4 linked regions of the Homo sapiens genome follow. The protein of the gene in region 4 purifies or fractionates together with the protein of the main gene of each other region. This does not show direct contact. Each region holds a gene or a part of one and is shown on either strand. Other genes may lie near its edges.

Evidence for each region.
Region 1: the proteins of NAT1 (region 4) and FTO purify together in Homo sapiens (affinity purification with mass spectrometry; one large-scale study listed by BioGRID and IntAct). This does not show direct contact.
Region 2: the proteins of NAT1 (region 4) and MRRF purify together in Homo sapiens (affinity purification with mass spectrometry; one large-scale study listed by BioGRID and IntAct). This does not show direct contact.
Region 3: the proteins of NAT1 (region 4) and ICAM1 purify together in Homo sapiens (affinity purification with mass spectrometry; 3 studies listed by BioGRID and IntAct, with this or other methods). This does not show direct contact.

The regions. Positions count from the first base shown.
Region 1 is NC_000016.10:53,825,777-53,830,665, forward strand, and holds part of FTO (alpha-ketoglutarate-dependent dioxygenase FTO), read left to right. Parts: intron 1-87; coding exon 88-715; coding exon of another isoform or gene 716-745; intron 746-4,889.
Region 2 is NC_000009.12:122,313,003-122,317,891, forward strand, and holds part of MRRF (ribosome-recycling factor, mitochondrial isoform 1 precursor), read left to right. Parts: intron 1-224; coding exon 225-384; intron 385-4,889. UniProt on the Homo sapiens protein: Responsible for the disassembly of ribosomes from messenger RNA at the termination of mitochondrial protein biosynthesis. Acts in collaboration with GFM2. Promotes mitochondrial ribosome recycling by dissolution of intersubunit contacts.
Region 3 is NC_000019.10:10,277,241-10,282,129, reverse strand, and holds part of ICAM1 (intercellular adhesion molecule 1 precursor), read right to left. Parts: intron 1-4,889. UniProt on the Homo sapiens protein: ICAM proteins are ligands for the leukocyte adhesion protein LFA-1 (integrin alpha-L/beta-2).
Region 4 is NC_000008.11:18,215,421-18,220,980, forward strand, and holds part of NAT1 (arylamine N-acetyltransferase 1), read left to right. Parts: intron 1-1,456; exon of another isoform or gene 1,457-1,473; coding exon of another isoform or gene 1,474-1,574; intron 1,575-1,621; exon of another isoform or gene 1,622-2,273; intron 2,274-3,990; coding exon of another isoform or gene 3,991-4,069; intron 4,070-4,083; exon of another isoform or gene 4,084-4,603; intron 4,604-5,560. UniProt on the Homo sapiens protein: Participates in the detoxification of a plethora of hydrazine and arylamine drugs. Catalyzes the N- or O-acetylation of various arylamine and heterocyclic amine substrates and is able to bioactivate several known carcinogens.

The DNA of each region.
Region 1 (4,889 bases), on a different chromosome or scaffold from region 4:
CCAAATGCTTACAAAGAAACACACCTTTGGAAATAATACAATTGTAGCTATATATCAACGTCTGTTTTTGCTTTGGTTTTGTTTTAGTGGCAGCTGAAATATCCTAAACTAATTCTCCGAGAAGCCAGCAGTGTATCTGAGGAGCTCCATAAAGAGGTTCAAGAAGCCTTTCTCACACTGCACAAGCATGGCTGCTTATTTCGGGACCTGGTTAGGATCCAAGGCAAAGATCTGCTCACTCCGGTATCTCGCATCCTCATTGGTAATCCAGGCTGCACCTACAAGTACCTGAACACCAGGCTCTTTACGGTCCCCTGGCCAGTGAAAGGGTCTAATATAAAACACACCGAGGCTGAAATAGCCGCTGCTTGTGAGACCTTCCTCAAGCTCAATGACTACCTGCAGATAGAAACCATCCAGGCTTTGGAAGAACTTGCTGCCAAAGAGAAGGCTAATGAGGATGCTGTGCCATTGTGTATGTCTGCAGATTTCCCCAGGGTTGGGATGGGTTCATCCTACAACGGACAAGATGAAGTGGACATTAAGAGCAGAGCAGCATACAACGTAACTTTGCTGAATTTCATGGATCCTCAGAAAATGCCATACCTGAAAGAGGAACCTTATTTTGGCATGGGGAAAATGGCAGTGAGCTGGCATCATGATGAAAATCTGGTGGACAGGTCAGCGGTGGCAGTGTACAGTTATAGCTGTGAAGGTACAGTCTGCTCTTGGAAAAAGCAGCCCTGTATGTAATAATATGACCCGAGTTGTTTAGGCTCTGGAGATACACACGCATATACATGAACATGTTTGCATGTGTGCTTGCGTGTGTACATGCACATGCGTGTGTGTGTATCATGTGTCCTTTTTAGTCTTGTCACACCTGTATGTCTGCAGAATATGCCTCTTTCTCATCTGGCCATGCTAGCTGGCTCATTGTTATACTGTACTCAGAATATTTTCGCACGTAAGCACTGCTGTCATTTGTCTCTCTTGTGCCCAGGAGAGCAGCCTCTTGGTTTCATACAGCCGACTGTCTTCTCTACAGCTCAGAGGAGATTGTACAGTTGCTATAATTAACTTGCTGATAAAGAGCTGGGAAAACAAAAATCTGTCAAATCTTTCCAGGTTCCCACAGGTGCACATTTCCAGACCTGCCAAAATATTTTATTATGGTTGACATCACTATCTTGATGGGTGTGATTTGTCAAATATGGACTTGTTCTTGGCTTCCTATAGTTTGTAACTACTGTCCTTCCTTGCCAGAAGCAGTTGAGGTAGGTTTTGTAAGCAGACAGTCCTCTATTTTCAGGAAACTCCCTAGCTCTTTACCCAATTCTGCAGTTTTAGACCTTGTTGGGTGGCTGTGGTAGACTTGTTCTTGCATTTTCTGATGTATAATCCCCTTGAAACAGATCGTAGGCTACCTCTTAGTAGCCCACCCACATTTCTCTTCTTCTATTATTGTTTCTGTGTGTTTATGGCCCTCATTTTTCCTTAGAATAGAATTACAAAAATGGTAGTTGAACAGATGGAGGAGAGCATGACCTCTGTTGACTTTCTTTTGTGTCTGATTATTTGGCAAAGGGATACAAGACATAGTATTAGCTCTCCTGTCTGATTTACTGAAAGATGTTTGGAAAACCAGAATTCTGGATATCCCATCAGGGAATGACTGGAACTTTCCAGGGTCATTATTTTCTGACAACTCTAGTTATTTGATTGGATTTTTGTTTGTTGTTGTTATTTGTTTACTAAAATTACTGTTTTGGAAAAGAGATTTAAGAAAAAAAAGATCTTTAAAGTACTCTTTAAATTTCTTACAATTTCCCAGTCTCAAAAATTTCCTCAGAACTACTAATATTTTTTCTAACTTTATCTTATGTCTTCAGTCTGAAACAAGGAACTAGTTTAGCATTTGGAAATTTCACCACTTTCTCTGGCATCTCAAATAATGATGCTGACCTAAGAAAATCGCTTGAAGGGATTTAACGCTGTCCTAATGGAAAGAACGGAGATCCTCTGATCTTTAATAAGGACTTGCCAGGGATTTAAGAACTATCACATCCAAGAACTCTGATGTGAACGAACAATGGAGTTAGTTTCTTTCTTAAGGAGACAACTCTCCAAACCTGAAGCAGTGGTATGTGATAGTACAAAGCTCTACAAAGATGTCTTTGTGCTCCCAATTACTCTGAGCCCTCCAGTTTAATAGTCCTATTGTACTCCCTTCCCGTGGGTGATCAAGTAGTTTTTGAAACCTAGAATATCTTTCAGAAAGGAATTTAAATGTCTAATGAATAGTTTCTATGCTCAGGAGTAATTAAGACTGACAAAGTATACAAATATAAATTACATATAAATATAGAAATGTTGGTACTTAAAGAGGGAACTGTAGAATTTGAATCTGTAAGAGCGGTGTGCAAACTCCTTTGTTCTCTTTTTTTTCTTTTTTTCTTTTGAGACGGGGTCTCGCTCTGTCGCCCAGGCTGGAGTGCAGTGGTGCGATCTCCACTCACTGCAAGCTCCGCCTCCCAGGTTCACGCCATTCTTCTGCCTCAGCCTCCCAAGTAGCTGGGGCTACAGGCGCCCGCCACCACGCCCGGCTAATTTTTTGTATTTTTAGTAGAGACGGGGTTTCACCGTGGTCTCAATCTTCTGATCTCATGATCCGCCCACCTCGGCCTCCCAAAGTGCTGGGATTACAGGCTTGAGCCACCATGCCCGGCCTCCTTTGTTCTCTTAACTGCAGAAATTCTCAGAACTCCATCTAATAATAATAGCAATACTGGGAATGCTCATTTATTGAGCACCTACTACGTGCTACATGCTGTTATAAGCATTTTACATGCATTAACTCATTTTGTCTTCCCAACAATTCAAAGAACAAAATAGTAATGAAGTACTATTGCTATCCTCATTTTACAGATGAGGAAACTGAGTCACAGAAGGTTGATTAACTTGTTCATGGTGATGCAGCAAGTAATTAGCAGAGTTAGGATTTGAGGACAAATATCCAGGCTTCAGAATCTTAACACCTAAGGCTATGTGCATTATGAGCAGGTATTTCTTATCCCAGCAGTGTAGCCGTCTCAGGGATTTTATTTTATTATTTTACTTTTTTAATTTTTTGAGACAGAGTGTTGCTCTATCTCCCAGGCCGGAGTGCAGTGGCACGATCTCGGCTCACTGCAACCTCCGCCTCCTGGGTTCAAGTGATTCTCCTGCCTCAGCTTCCCGAGTAGCTGGGATTACAGGCATGCACCACTACTCCCAGCTAATTTTTTATAATTTTAGTAGAGACGGGGTTTCACCATGCTAGCCAGGCTGGTCTCAAACTCCTGACCTCGTGATCTGCATGCCTTGGTCTCCCAAAGTGCTGAGATTACAGGTGTGAGCCACTGCGCCTGGCCAGGGACTTGGATTTTTAAAATGTCCACCTTCTGGAAAGGTTAAGGGGACATTCCACTTGCTTTTTCTTTCAGGTCCTGGTGTCTTCCTTTCTCCAGCTTTACTTCTCACCCACATCTGCTGTAGCTTTCCAGCACATACTCTCAGATGATTGGAATGCATCAGATTATCTTATTCGATGAAACAGAACCTTTCTGTAGGTGTCTGGCTGTGTGTCAGACGGCATACAAAGCATGTGGCTCTGGGTCAGATGGTGTACAAAGCATGTGCCTTGAAACTCTATGGTGGGCGCATGTCTTCTAAGTGACAAGTGATATCTGTTTAGTTTTCTGGTCTTATAATCCTTGGCAGAATGCCAGAACTATGGCAAAGGTGGACTTGAAGAGAATCATTTGGTTTAAAATTTTGGTTGAGGTTGAGAAGGGCTTAAGGAGGTCATAGAGAGTGGACACTTCAGAGAATTGTATTTTTTTCTGTGTCCTTGAACTTGTTTGTCAATGAGCTGTTCTAGACAGTATGGGAACTCCAAAGATAAATCAATGGCTTTCTCACTTTGAGGTAATAGGGAGGTAATAGGTGGGCTCTCGTGATTATAATTATGAAATGATGAAACATTGGGTTTGAAAGAGACTTTTGAAATCACTTGATTCTAGCCTTTCATTTTACAAATGAAAACACCGAGAAGGGAAGTGGCTTGGCCAAGGTCACATTGCTACTTAGTGATAAGAGCAGGGATTTAAGTTGGAAAGTGTTCCTTGCCACTGGAGAGGTTCACGTAAAATGCACTGGGAATTCAGATACAGAAGTGATTGCTTCCTGCTGAAATTAAATTCAGTTGAAGCTTAAGATCTTTCAAGACTCTGCTCTCAATACCTTTTCCCAGGGAAATCTTCTTGTAGATTTATAATGAGCCAGTCATCCCTCTTTGGTTTATTTTCATGAGTAGAGGTCATTGAGAAGTAATTTGTATAGGATACGTGTAATTATATACTAAATTCATTGGCTTTCACATGCCGTTCTAGTTAATAGATATCTCCAGTAGGAAGATTGAAATGGTACAATTTTTAATCAGGAATGGCTTCGGGGAACCATATGTAAATAGGCAGAATATTTGATTTTCCTATTCCAGCTTTGCTGGCAATTGCTTGTTACTCCTAGCTATAAAAAACGAACTTTAGCGGGGAAGGCATTAAAAACCCAATGTTTAATATGGTCCAGCACCTTGTTCTTTGACTGGAACACCTTCAGAAACATCACTTAGATCAACAGTAACTATTGGCTACCATTTTTGTTTCTTTGTCTGGAAGGAAACATTTTCTGTGAAATTGTCTTTCTAGAAAGAAAAGCAATTCTTAAGATTTTAAACTAGTGCCAAGTATTGCATATTCTTGACATTATTTTCCAGACCTCCCACAAGGAGCCAGGAAGGCAGCTGGGCGCGGAGGCTCACAACTGTAATCCCAGCACTTTGGGAGACC
Region 2 (4,889 bases), on a different chromosome or scaffold from region 4:
ACTGGGAAGTTTGGTACCTTCTACAAAGTCAAACCCAGTTTGCCCATGTTTGGGCAACTTAAAGCCTTTATACATGCGTTTTCCTCCTCCTGGAAATTCCAGGAGTTCAGCCCACAGAGAGGAAAGTTACAAACTGCTGAACTGGTTGACAGAGTGATGTTAAATTCTTGGCCAGCAGTTAATGTATAGAATGATTTTGTTGAATGTCTTTTGTCTTTTATCAGAGTAACCAGAGAGCACAGAGAAATGCTGGTGAAACTGGCCAAACAGAACACCAACAAGGCCAAAGACTCTTTACGGAAGGTTCGCACCAACTCAATGAACAAGCTGAAGAAATCCAAGGATACAGTCTCAGAGGACACCATTAGGCTAATAGAGAAACAGGTACTATTGCCAGCAATGTAGTAGTGTCTGTGTATTCAGCATAAGGAATCATTTGTTCATGTTTGAGGTGAGGACAGTTAAAACAGAATACCTCTGATCTTTCATTCACATTATCACCATTGTCTGAGTCTCTGTTCTGGGCCTAGCCTAATGCCAGATTCAGAGGGATCCATAGAGGAGGATAAGACACTTGTATTGTGTACCAGGTTTTGTGCTGAACACTTTATATTACTTCATTTACCCTCATCACTACAAAACTATGAGGTAGGTAGTAAGGAAACTGAGATTCAGGCAAGTTAAATAACTTGCCCGAAATCACACTGCTGGAAATTGGTAGAAATCGGATCCATACTTAGGCAGACGGATTTCAGAGCCTCTACGCTAATGCTCTCCTGTCTGGTTTTCCGGTTGCTGAGAATTGAGCACTTAGTGTTCTCAGTGTGCTGAGTAGTGGCACTTGAATAAGTCTTAAGCTGCTGGAGTAAAATAGTGAGAGACAAGGGGGAAAAGTGTAACCATATGTACAAAGGTAAGGTGATATAAAAACAATATTCAGTTAAGATCATTGGGGTTTGAACGTAGGATAAGACTAGGGAATGAATAAAGAAAACAGAGTGGCTAGATAATAGAAGGAAGGTCTCGTACACCAGGTTTAGGAGTTTGAACGTTAACATGTACAGACTGTCCCACATTGGCTGTGCATCTATATTAGTCATGTATGGCCACAATAATGGTACATAACTACCCCAAAACTCAGTGATCGACAATATCAAAGCATTATTTCTTGTTCTCATTTCCATGGGCCAGCTGGGGTGTAGCTATTCTAGGCTGGGCTCAGTGGGCTTGGCTCCAGATCTTGGATTGGGTTCAAATCTGCTTTATATCTCTCAATCTTCCAAAGCCAACAGGTTTCCTAGGGCCTCTTTTCATGGTAACAGCAGATGCCAAGATCATAAGCCCAACCACTCAAGTACATTTTAAACACCTGCTCTTGTCACATTTGATTGGCCAAAGCAAGTCACATGGGCCAAGCTCAATATGTTTGGTACAAGGAAATATATATATTTATGGAGGTCTGGGGAAAGAAGTGAATATTTGCTGAACAGCATCTCTCTACCAAAGTACCTTAATCACTTGGGTAGCTTATAAAAATCCAGGTATCTGGGGCCCCATTTCCAGAGATTGAGTCAATGAATCTGGGACAGAGCCAGGAATCTGTATTTTAAATCCTTCTCAGGTGATTCTCATACAGTGACACACTTAAAAGATTTTTTTTAGATGATGGAGAGAGCACATCTATGTTTATGAAAGATGACTATGGTGGCCAGGTAGAAAACAGATTGTAGGGGGCAAGACTGGAGGCAGGGCGATAGGGATGCTGCTGCAGAAATCCAGCCAGGAAGTGATGGTGGCCTGAACCTGAGTGGCACCTGTGGAAAGATGTGGAGATAGAATTAGTAATGTTCAATGTAATATAAAGGGTTTGATAGGCCTTAAAGCCTCCTCATCCACAATAAAGCATTGTTTTAGGGAGATTGAACAGGCATGTGGGCTGGATAGGGAGTGAAGAGAGAAGCGAGAAGCAAGGGACCCCTGGAGAAGTCCATAAGTTGACTAGCTGCTCCCCTTCTCCTCCACCAGCAGTTAAAATGCTAGTTTTACTAGCATTTTACTAGTAGGACAGCCACAACAGTCACCTGGGGGGGGGAATTTTAGGTGGCTTCCTGGGCCCTACTCCTGCATTTTCTGATACAGTAGCTCTGCCTAGGAATGTATATTTTTATTTTACTTACTTTTATTAATTCATTTTTCTTGAGATGGGGTCTCACTATGTTGCCCAGGCTGGTCTTGGGCTCCTGGGCTCAAGCAGTCCTCCTGTAGCTGGGATAACAGATGCGTCCAGCTGGAATGTATAGTTTTAAAAAGCTCTCAGGTAATTGTGTAAAAGCACACATAGAAGATAATGACCTAGAAGCCTGGTAATGTACCTGTGTAATGACACTAGAGTTAGAAAAAGATTGTTCTGCACTTGATGTCCTATGACCTTGGGGAAGTTGCTTGACTCTTTGGAGTCTGTTTTCTGTAAAAAGGGATTGGTAATTTCTGCCTTGAATGGTTTCCTTGGTATGCTAGAAAGCACCATTAGTGTACCTAACACCCAAACCCTCAAAACTCCCCTCTTGCCATCTCTCTGCCCTCCTCCTTCCCTGTATCAGCTAAAAGAAGAGGTTCAGAGATTAGGCGGGCCTTTCCTGTGCACTGACCAGGCCTCATTAATAGTCTGGGCCCTGGCTCCAGCTGGGCCGGCTCCTTGTCTTTCTCCTAGGGGATTTCTTCACTGCTTTCCCTTGTCATTGCTTCTTGGTGGTAAGCCTATGGACCTTCAGGGCCTGCCAGGCACTAGTCACTCAGCAAGCCAGGACATCTGCCTCAGGGACCAGAGCCCACAACTCCTGAAAGAGGAAGAATGATCAGATAGCAAGCATTCTTGATAAAACCCTCTTGACAAAGACCTTGCTGGAAGCCTTCACTCATTAGCACTGGCTTTTCGCCATCCTCTTCAGATTAAATTTTTTTTCTTTAGTGCTTCTTACTGTGATTTTTTTAAGTGAAAATAGCTGTATTCGTTTTGCTGTTAAAACAAGGAAGAAAGTAATTGAAATCTCATCACTCAGATGACTGTTGTTAACATTTTAGTGTAGAACTTCAAGTTATCTCTCGAAACAAGAAAAAGTATCATACAATTTATATGATACGATATATCACAGATATCTTTCTAAACATATTATTATTTAAATGTTTATTTTTATTTATTTTTTATTTTTGTCACCCAGGCTGGAGTGCAGTGGTGCAATCTTGGCTCACTGCAACCTCTACCTCCTGGGTTCAAGCGATTCTCCTGCCTCAGACTCCCGAGTAGCTGGGATTACAGGCACGTGCCACCATGCCCTGCTAATTTTTTTATTTTTAGTAGAGATGAGGTTTCACCATGTTTGCCAGGCTGGTCTTGAACTCCTGACCTCAGATGATCCGCCCACCTCAGCCCCCCAAAGTGCTGGGATTACAGGCATGAGTGCCCAGCTAAATGTTTATTCTTAACCAGGATTGTTAATAACTTAATTTACTGTCATAGAGTTAAAAGTTTGGAACAGTAGAGAGCCTTATATATACTTCATGGTGTTCTTTCTACTGTCAGAAGGCCCCAGACTGGAATTTTTGGTGTGTGTGTGTGTGTACGTGTGCGTGCATGTTTTAAAGATATAAAACAAGGTTATGGCTGATTGTCGCTTCATCAGACAGTTTTAAAATTTTGTTTACTTTTGTTCCTTATTATCAAAGTAATATATGTTCATTGGAGAAAGTTCATCCTCCCCTCCCACATTGGAGAGGCAACCGCTCTTAACATTTTGGAATATTTCTTTTTTCCTTTTTTCTAAAAAAAAAAAAAACTACATAGTTTTAAACATGATTGAGAACATATAGTATATATACAATTTTGTATTCAGCTTTTTATTTTCTGTTTGACCTCAAAGGTATTAGCATTTTTCATGTCTTGAAAAACTCTTTGTAAAACTCTTTCTGATGGCTGCTAAATAGTTGGTGGTGTGCTGTTCACTTTCATAAGCCCTCTTTTTGGACATTTTAGTTTGTTGAAACTTCTTTGTTATAAGGTTGCAGTGAATATATATATATATATATATAAATCTTTGTTGAGATGATTTCCTTAGAATAGACTGGAACGTCCCAAGTGTGGAATTACTGTACAGAGGGATTGCATATTTTTTGTAAGATTCTTGGTACATACTACTGTGTTTTTAGAATATATATGTATTTAATTTGCCTTTTATAACCCCTAACACTTGAACCTAGAATTTTTTATCTGAGCTGAAAATGTTGCTTATCTGGGAACTGTTGCTTTTACTTTCACACTCTACAGAAAAGATTGTTATTCTTTGTATAAATCCATACGACCTTTCTAAAGGATAATATATACTAAAATCCATACATTTCTGATTTAGTGACTTAGGAATTTGCCCAAAATAAATAATCAAGAGCCTTATTTATAGGAATGTTCATTGATATATATAATAGTAGAAAACTGGAAACTGTCTATAAATTTCTGACTGTGGGAAGTAAATTGTTTTACATTCATTAGAATCTACATAGAAAGTTATAAAAATATTTTATAGACATGGTAAATTTTTTTGGAATTTGCTTTTAAAAGGTAGATTATACAGCAGTTTGATTTTAGTTTTATAAAGAAAAGTCACATGCACATGGGGTTGGCAGCTTATACATGTCAAAATATTAAAGGTGGTCATTTCAGATGATGGGATTATAAACAATTTGGATTTTATTTTGAGTGAGATTATCTTTTTTAATTTTCAAAAATCTTTTGAGGTCAGATTTTTTAAAGCTTTATTATAAAAATGCTTCTTCAATTTTTGGTGTATAAGAATGAAATGATAGGCTGGGCGCAGTGGCTCACGCTTATAATCCCAGCA
Region 3 (4,889 bases), on a different chromosome or scaffold from region 4:
TGCCACTGTACTTTAGCCTGGGAAAGAAAGACCCTGTTTCTATTAAAAAAAAAAAAAAGTCAGTAATGACAGAGTCTAATAACAAAAAGGCTGCGTGTGGTGGCTCACGCCTGTAATCCCAACACTTTGGGGGGCCGAGGCAGGCGGATCACCTGAGGTCAGGAGTTCAAGACCAGCCTGGCCAATATAGTGAAACCCCGTCTCTACCTAAAAATACAAAAATTAGCCAGGCGTGGTGTTGTGTGCCTGTAGTCCCAGCTACTTGAGAGGCTGAGGTTTACTTGTGAGGAAAGGATTACTTCAGCCCAGGAGGCAGAGATTGCAGTGAACTGAGATCGCGCCACTGTACTCTAGACTGAGTGACAGAGTGAGAGTCTCTCTCAGAGGAAAAAAAAAAAAAAAAAAAAAGCATCAGGACCGGGGGGGTCCTGCATTTGATACCCAGCCTTGCTTCTTTGCTGTGGGTAAGTGACTTTGTCTCTCTGAACCTCAGTTTCCTGAACTGTAAAATAGGGCTATTAAAGGTAGGAGAATTCACTTAAGAGGTAGACAGAGTCGCTGTACATAAGCAGGAGGTTTCTTTTTTAGAGTGATTGAAATATTTTAAAATTAGATTGTAGTCATGGTTGTTTGTACAGAAGTCATTGAATTATGTGCTTAAAAGGGATGAATCTTATGGTATTCTAAATCGTATCTCAAGAAAGCAAGGCTGGGGCATGGTGGCTCACATCTGTAATCCCAGTACTTTGGGATGCCAAGGCGGGGTCATTTGAGGCCAGGAGTTCAAGGCTAGCTTGGGCAACATTGCAAGACCTCATTTCTCCAAAAAAAAAAAAAAAAATTAAAAACAAGCTGGGCTTCGGCATGGCGTGGTGGCTTATGCCTGTAATCCCAGCACTTTGGGAGGCCAGAACAGATGGATCACCGGAAGTCAGGAGTTCAAGACCAGCCTGGCCAGGCCAGACATGGTGGCTCACGCCTGTAATCCCAGCACTTTGGGAGGCCAAGGCGGGCGGATCACGAGGTCAGGAGATCAAGACCATCCTGGCTAACACGGTGAAACCCCGTCTCTACTAAAAATACAAAAAATTAGCCAGGCGTGGTGGTGGGCGCCTGTAGTCCCAGCTACTCAGGAGGCTAAGGCAGGAGGATGGAGTGAACCCGGGAGGCGGAGCTTGCAGTGAGCCCAGATCGAACCACTGCACTCCTGCCTGGGCGACAGAGTGAGACTCTGTCTCAAAAAAAAAAAAAAAAAAAAAAAGGCCGGGCACGGTGGCTCATGCCTGTAATCTCAGCACTTTGGGAGGCCGAGGCAGGTGGATCATCTGAGGTTGGGAGTTCGAGACCAGCCTGACCAACATGGAGAAACCCTGTCTTTACTAAAAATACAAAATTAGCCTTGTGTGGTGTCGCATGCCTGTAATCCCAGCTACTCAGGTGGCTGAGGCAAGAGAATAGCTTGATCCTGGGGGTCGGAGGTTGTGGTGAGCTAAGATCCTGCCATTGCACTTCAGCCTGGGCAATAAGAGCGAAACTCCGGTCTCAAACAAACAAACAAAAAACACCAAAGAAAAAAAAAAAACCAGCTGGGCTTCCTGCTGGCTCACACCTGTAGTCCCTGCTACTCAGGAGGCTAAGGGTGGGAGGAGGATTTCTTGAGCCTGGGAGTTTGAGGCTGCAGTCAGCTACGATTGTACCACTGCACTCCAGCCTGGGTGACAAAGTGAGACCCTGAGACCCTGTCTCTAAAAATAAAACAGAAAGCTGTTAAGCTGTTAAAAACAAAAACAAAAAAATATATATATATATAGTCAAGAAAACTCTGACCTCCAGCTCTTCTCTCTTACCACCTCCTATAGACTCTTGCAGAACTTGAGGTACCCTCAAACCTCAGCCCCTAGAGGAAACCCAGCTCAGCTGCCTGGTGCAGCGGGGAGGAAGTCTGTCCTGCTCTCACCTCTTCTTGACCCTGACCTGCAGTCCTTTACCAAATCCTGGTCACTGAAGTATTCAAATACTTGTCTGTCCTTCCCTTCTTGAATACGGTCACTGCCCACAACATGGGCCGCGTGGACAAGGACCATAGCCAACTGCTCATTGGCTTCCAGTAAATCCAGCCTTCAGCTATCTAATCCCTGGCCTGCTCAGAAACCCTCCATGACTCCCTATCACCCCAAGAAGGAAAGTCCCAGCTCCTCCACCTGGCATTCAAGGCTCTGCCAACCTCACCCTTCCTCCCATCAATCAATTTTTTTTTTTTTTTTAGGGGCAGTGTCTCTCTCTGTCACCTGGGCTGGAATGCAGTGGTGCAATCATAGCTGACTGTAACCTCAAATTCCTGGGCTTGACCAGGCTCAGTGGCTCACACCTATAATCCCAGCACTTTGGGAAACTGAGGCAGGAGGATCTCTTGCGGTCAGGCGTTCAAGACCAGCCTGGCTAACATGGTAAACCCTATCTCTACTAAAAATACAAAAAAATTAGCTGGGCATGATGGTGGGCACCTTAATCCCAGCAACTCGGGAGGCTCAGGCAGCAGAATCGGTTGAACCCAGGAGGTGGAGGAGGCTGCAGTGAGCCAAGATGGCACCACTGCACTCCAGCCTGGGCCACAGAGTGAGACTCCATCTCAAAAAAACAAAAACAAAAACAAAAAAATTCCTGGGTTCAAGTGATCCTCCCACTTGAGCCTCCAGAGTAGTTGAGAATACAAGCATATGCCACTGTACCCTAATTTTTTTATTTTTTCTTAGAGACAGGGTCTCGCTATGTTGCCCAGGCTGGTCTCGAACTCCTGGGCTCAAACAATCCTCTTGCTTTGGCCTCCCAAAGCACTGGGATTACAGGTGTGAGCCACTGCACCTGGCCTACACCAACCTACCTCCTCCTCCTCCTGCCTCCATCAAGATTTCTCCCTGCTCCCAACTTTTGCCCAGGCTGTTCCTCCTGCCCAGAATGCCTGTCCTTATGAACTCCTACACATCCTTCAAAGCCCAGCTAGTGGTCGCCTCCTCTAGGAATTACACCTCTAACCTTTTTGGAGAAGATTGAGCCATCCAGGGAGGCTTCTTTATGTTTACACCAGGGGTGGGGCAAGACCAAGCTAGAGTCTCTCTCAGGTACCACCCTCCCACATAACTTTTACTCCTTTGCTACCTGTGCCAGCCATCTGCTCCATTTCACAGAGGTAAAAACTAAGGCAAAGTGGGGCACCCACAGTCATAGAGGGAGAAATGTGGCAGAGCCAGGTCTCAAACCTGGAGTTCTATGCTCTCAGCTATCAGGCAGAGCCGCGCGTGGTGGCTCAAGCCTGTAATCCCAGCACTTCGGGAGGCTGAGGCGGGTGGATCACCAGAGGTCTAGAGTTCGAGACCAGCCTGGCCAACTTGGCGAAACCCTGTCTCTACTAAAAATACAAAAATTAGCCAGGCGTGGTGCCAGGTGCCTGTAATCCCAGCTACTGGAGAGGATGAGGCAGGAGAACTGCTTGAACCCGGGAGATGGAGGTTGCAGTGATCCAGCCTGGGCGACAGAGCAAGACTGTGTGTCAAAAAAAAGAAAAAAAAAAAAAAAAAAAAAAAGACCTATCAGGCAGAGATGCAGAAAAGACCTTCAAAGAGGTTTCCCTGGGGTTTCCAGAAGCTGCTGGGAATGTTCGGGGACTTCCCTCACCTGGGAAGGTCAGCATCTGCTCACCCACCCTCCAAATCAGAAGCAAAGCTGATCATTTGATCATTTACCCAGAGGCTTCCTTGCCCTGACACAATGATAGGAGAACATCCTTTGTCACTCACCGTGTCATTTTCCCCATCAGAGGAGGTCTCACCTGATTGCAAAGTAAATGCAGAAGTCATGTCCCAAGCTATTAAAGGCCTTGCTGGGACTGGAACCCAAGGCTAATCCCAAAGCTACTTGGCCAGTTTTTATTTTTTAGAGACAGGGTCTTTCTCTGTCACCCAGGCTGGAGTGCAGTGGTGTCATCACGGCTCACTACAGCCTGGACCTCCCAGGCTCAGGTGATCCTCCCACCTCAGCCTCCTGAGTAGCTGGGACTACTAGTATGCCAGCACGCTTGGTTAGGTTTTTTATTTTTTGTAGATATGGGGTCTTGCTATGTTGCCCAGGCTGGTGTCCAACTCCTGGCCTCCAAGCGATCCTTCTACTTCGGCCTTCTAAATCACTGGGATTATAGGCATGAGCCACGTGCCTAGCCTGCCCAGTGCTCTTCTGTTTTTTCTTCTTTGATTTTGTTTTGTTTTCATTTGAATTCCTTATTTTGGCCTTGATAACTCTTTCCCACCATTCGAAGTCCCCAAAGTAGGAAGGACGCAAAGAGAAATTCTCGGCTGGGGGCAGTGGCTCACGCCTGTAATCCCAGCACTTTGGGAGGCCGAGGCGGGCAGATCACAAGGTCAGGAGATCAAGACCAGCCTGGCCAACATGATGAAATCCCGTCTCTACTAAAAATACAAAAATTAGCCGGGCGTGGTGCTGGGCGCCTGTAATTCCAGCTACTTGGGAGGCTGAGGCAGGAGAATTGCTTGAACCCGGGAGGGAGAGGTTGCAGTGAGCTGAGATTACACCATTGCACTCCAGGCTGGGGACACAGCAAAACTCCATCTCAAAAAGACAACAACAAAAAAAGAATTCTCAGCCAGGCAAAGTGGCTCACGTTGTAATCCCAGCACTTTGGGAGGCCGAGGCGGGCGGATCACCTGAGGTCAGAGTTCAAGACCAGCCTGACCAACATGGAGAAACCCTGTCTCTACTAAAAATACAAAATTTGCCAGGCGTAGTGGCCCATGCCTGTAATCCCAGCTAGTCGGGAGGCTGAGGCCGGAGAATCACTTAAACTCAGGAGGTGAAGGTTGCGGTGAGCTGAGATCGTG
Region 4 (5,560 bases):
TGATACGATATTGTATCTATATGGTTCCTTTCTGTTCATCATTATGTATTCTGTTGATTAATTAGTTCCATTTCTGTCCTTAATTAGTATTCTAAGGTATGAAATCTTTCTTTTCATAAAACTATTATTTTATCACTTTATTTTTAGCTGTTTTTTATTGAGTTTATTTCACATGGTCCATAGCCCCAGATACCTGTACAATTTTTTTTTTCAGTTTATTTTTCTTCTTGAATTGGTTGTGGTTTTTTTGTATATAACTTTTGCATGTTATGTCTTTTCTTCTAATCCCAATCTCACAGTATTTTGATTTTGTTAGTTCTCATCATTTTCATGTATGTATAGCTCTGTTTCCACCTTTTATTTGCTGCTTGAATCTGGTGTGGCTGGTGAGATGTCCAGCTGGGGTTGGTGTAGACTTGTCAATTGAGGAAAATGACGAGACGAGTCTCAATCATTTTAGGAGATTTATTTGCCAAAGTTAAGGATGTGGGCCTGGGAGACAGGTCTATGCCTTTCTCTGAAGATGATTTTAAGGACTGCAAATTTAAAGGGGAAAGGATGGGATATCGAGAAGCACCGTTTTCATGTAAGAGCTGGGTAGGGAAAATAGTGATTCATGGCCTTTGGCTCAGTGAATGTGCTTTTTTTTGCATAAGATGACATAAACAAAAGGGGCAGAGGAAAAATGCAAGGACTCTGCATTTTACATAACATACCTGGTGGCTCAGATGCTACTCTTTTAGCTGTGGTTTCAGCCAGTTGGTTACCCTGACTTTCTGTGGTGTCTAATTTTGAGTGACCTGGGATTTTTATAATTGCCAAACGTTTTGGTTTTAGAGTAGCTTCTAACAGCGCTGATACTTGCTGCCCATTTTCTATGGGTTGCCCTGAGTAGGTTAAATATCCTCTCTCTTTCCATAGCATCCCAAAGTTATGAGCAACCCCAAAAGCTTAGCGGCTGTCAGTGTAAATGTTTGCAGCCTTGTCTTTTGCCACTTGACAAGCTCGAGTCAGGGCAATCAATTTGGCTGCTTGAACCAATCTGGCATGGGGAAGAGGACTGGCTTCAGTTACCTCTAGTAAGGAAACCACAGCATATCCTGCTCTAAAATGTCCATTTTCTCATCTTCAATAAGACCCATCTGTATACCATTCTATCTCAGCATTATCCAGTGGCATCGCTTATAGGTCTGTCCTGGGGGTGAGAAGTTGGTCAGTCATCAGAACACAGTCATGAGGGGTCTTGTTGGAAGGGCCTGGCAAGAGAGTGGCTGGATTAAGATGATAGAGCAGGAAATAGTAATATTGGGAGAAGATAAAAGCAAAATTTCGTAAGAGGCTAAGCAGTTGACAGACAGATACTGGGTATGATGAGAATTTAGAAGGGTCTCAATAGGATGTGGCACAAAAATGGTAAGGGGGAACTCATAAGAACTCATAATTATTTCTTCAACAGACGTGTACAGAAGGGCCATGCTGTTATTACTCTTACACAAGGAGGCAGCCCTCGAGCCACAGGGTCCAGCTGTTGGCTATAATAGCCTACCGGTCTCTGATGATCACCATGTTTCTGGGTCAGTACCCTGGATGCAGTACCTCCAGTTTCGCATACAAAAAGGGAGAAAGGCAACTTGTAGATTGGGTGCTGTGAGTCTGGGGAATTAGTGAGAATTTCCTTTATTTGTTATATAACTGGTTTTCCCTCTGGAGTCCCCATGATGAGATCAGGTTGTTCATTTTTTAGGTATGCATATGGAGGGTGAGCCACAAAGGAGAAATTTGGTATCCAGTTTCTACAACAGCCTGCCAGTCCCCGAAATCCTCTAAGTTGTTTCTTAGTGATGGGCATTGGGAAAGCTAAAATTTCTCTCACATTATCAGGGTTAATACTCAGTCCTTTGACCAAGATAATATGCCCCAAATACTTAACTTCCGGTAAGCACAGCTGAAGTTTGTCTTCAGACGCTTTGCGTCCCTTGCTGGCTGAGTAAATGTAGACTATCTTCCTGGGAGGAAGATGCTGTGCCTGGACAAAGGAGAAGGTCATCCACATACTGAACGAGTGTTGAGCCCTGGGGAAAAATTAAATCCACTAAATCAGCTTTTAGTATTTGGGAAAAGTAAGTGGGACTTTCTGTATACCCTTGGGGCATGACAGCCCACATATATTGCCATTCTTTCCAAGTAAAAGCAAACAAATATGGCTGTCTGGATCTACAGGAATACTGAAAAAGGCACCGCAGAGATTCACAACTGAGAAATACTGGCTGGTAGTGAGTATAGCTGATAAAACGGCATGTGGGTTGGGGACTACTGGGTGCCTGGGTATTACAATATTGTTTATTGCCCTCAAGTCCTGCACAAATCTCCATTTTCTCCTGCTTTGTTTCTTTACAGGGAACATAGGGCTGTTGCAGGGGCTGGTGCAGGGAATAATGAGCCCCTTTTTAGATAGTCTTGTATAATAGGGGCAATTCCATTTGCGGCTTCCTGCTATAGAGTGTATTGTTTAAGGCTAGGCAGGGGTTTCTTTGGATTTATCTCTACCTTTATTGGAGTGGCTGAGAATATTTTCCCTATATCTGTATTGACTGAGACCGTAAGTGGGAGGAGACATCCTTGAGCAAGCGTTCCTCTTCTGGTGTTAACAGGAAGACTGGGGAAGCTAAAAGGAGTTTTACCGTTTCCTGCTCTTTATTCCAGTGTTTTCTCTTCTCCTCTATTATTTCCTTCTGTGTCTCTATTTCATATTCCCGGCCACAAGACGATGTTTCAACACTACTAGTACTAAATTGTGGTACGTTGTCAGGACATTTTGTAATTCGGTATTCTTGGTCTCCTGGCCCCAATTCTAAAAAAAGTTCACGTTTTGATGAAAAAAAGATATGGGCATTATGGATGTTGAGGAGATCACAGCTCAAAAGATTGACAGGGGCCCCAGGGCATATAAGAAACATATGGTACCTACGGAGCATGTCACACACAATTAGAGCTTGCGGCGGGGGAGCTGAACCCGATGGAATTGTAAGGTATAGGTTTGGACTTAAAACGTGAGATCATTTTATTAGACGCAGCCACCATGTTAATTCTTTCATTACTCTGAGGAATGGGCTTTCTAAATCAGGTGGGATTTATCAGAGATATAGTTGTGTCTGTGACAATTAAGGCAGTTGTAAGCTCATGATTTATTATTATATTAATGTCTCCCAATTTGTTTGTCATGGTGAAGTTTTAACAGCTCACTAGGAGTTAACTTGTGGGCAAAATATGGGGGAGGCATGTGGCTTTTCATCTTGTAGCCATCTTATTCAGGAACCAAAAAGGGGGAGGCAGGTTTGCATGACCCACTTACTAGCTTGACTTTTCCCTTTGGCTAAATGAGTTTCGGGGGTCCCACAATTTAATTTCCTTTCACAGACTCCTCAGTTTTCTTTAGTGGAGGTGAGGGGAGGTGGCTATGACAAGAGATGCTCTGATAGCGGATCTTCTGTATATAGATGGTCCTTGTTTCTTTTGAGTAGCATCATACATTAAGGGCCTTACCTTGTTTATCTGCCTCAACATGCCGAATTATAGCTGTACCTAGAGGAAGACCAGGTGCTAGCACTACATCCTGGTCTTTGATGTGTTTGGTATATGTCATGGTAGTGACTGGGGGCATGGAACTTGGTTCACCCTTCCTTGCTGATCTCATGACAGTTCATCAGCTGGTGGGTTGCCTCGGGAGGCTGTGGAAGCCCCGCTGCTGGTGGCTTCCACAGCTTCCAGGTTTTTAAGCCAGAAGGCTGTACCCCATCAGCGTTGCACCCATCTCCATAGTTGTAGTTTCCACACACTTATACAACTCAAATGTTCACTTTACTGTGCAGTCCATTCCCTCTGTTTTGTGATTTTTAGGAAATCTTCATAATTTACGGTCTACAAAACTATTATTTTGTTTTCAAGGAAGTCATGTTATATATTTCTGACTGTCTTTTCTCTTATTTCTAGAATTCAAGCCAGGAAGAAGCAGCAATCTGTCTTCTGGATTAAAACTGAAGATCAACCTACTTTCAACTTACTAAGAAAGGTATTAAGCGCCTTTCTGAGAGCTCTCAGTGGGCTTCCTAAGCACGTTCACTCTGCCTCCTTTAAGTCTTATATTTATGATCAAGATGAAAGGGAGGGATGTATCACTGCACAGAGATTCTACAAGTGGATATATAAAGCTAATAATGTTTTCAGTGAGCTCTTCTCTGGCAACTACTTTCCAAGTGCTTTCAGCATTCCACCTTGAAGCACAACGTTAATAATGCACAATTTCTTATGTTCAGCCACAGAATGTTCACGTGTGATTTGGTTACAACATATTGCTCTATCCAGGCCTCTAACAAAACTGACTTCTTTCAAATGGACTTGCAGTTGCTGAATTCCAAATCAACACTTTATCTTAAAAACAGAAAAGGAGGGGAAGGGTGGAGGGAGGGGAACAGAGAGGGTACAAGAGGCAAAAAAAGAAAAAGAGGAAAACAAATGCTTGTAAACAAGTTAAACCAAATAAAAGAGATATAAAGTAATTTCTTAAAAGAAGGAATGATATTCTAAGCAAGAATCAAATATCCAGGTATGTATAAACCGCCTTCGTCCTTTTAGATCGGCTTCTCTCTCTTCTTTACATACTCAGTACAAATTCTAGGTGAGGGGGCAGAGAGGGGTTGGCATTGTCTGACTAAATACATCTTGTTCTCTCTCTGAGTGGTAGAACTTTAGAGCTTGACCAAATGTTACGAAAGGGTGCTGGTGGAAGTTAGGATGAGAAGAAATGCAATCTAATAGATTTGGAGAAATGATGTTGTAGACACCAAGAACAGAGAAAGTTGGAAACTGGCAATATGGGGAGGATAGCTGGGTCAGAAAGGAAAAATAGGAGAATATAGAAGAAATGTTATGAGAAGGGAAAATAAGAGATGCTCCACTTATCACCATTCATCTCGGGGCAGGTCCCTTTGTACAAGGTCATCCTCAGGCCATACCACATACAAAAGAGTTATACCTGAGGTCTGTACAGCACTGTTACAATCATAGTCTCAAAAGGTTAAGGCTCTATGATGGCAGGTTTAAAAAACCTTTTCTAAAATATTTAACAAAATAAGGGGCATTTATTTTTTTTTGGTTCACATTACCTGAAAGTTAAAAGATAGCTTTCGGCTTCATTCAGGTCTTTCCTCATTCTACCTTCTGTTGTTTTTCATCTCTTGGTAAACTTGGTGAACTCTTTGTTAGTGTTGTTCTTCAGTAGGTTCTCACCAATAGCTTTGAATGAATACCCCACCAGCTTCTACTCACCAATAGCTTTGAATGAATACCCCACCAGCTTCTACCTTGTAGCAGAATGTACACGCTTAGGTTTCAGCAAAAGTTCCTCAGTAAAGTCTCAGATCTACTTAGATCATATGTTATCCATGAGCCAAGCACTGGTCCTAGAGCATATGTGTTCAAATTGGTCCCACCTAGTCCATGTGACTATCCATAAGGCGCAATATGGGCAGCCTGTTCTCTACACAGTATCCAGAAACATCAC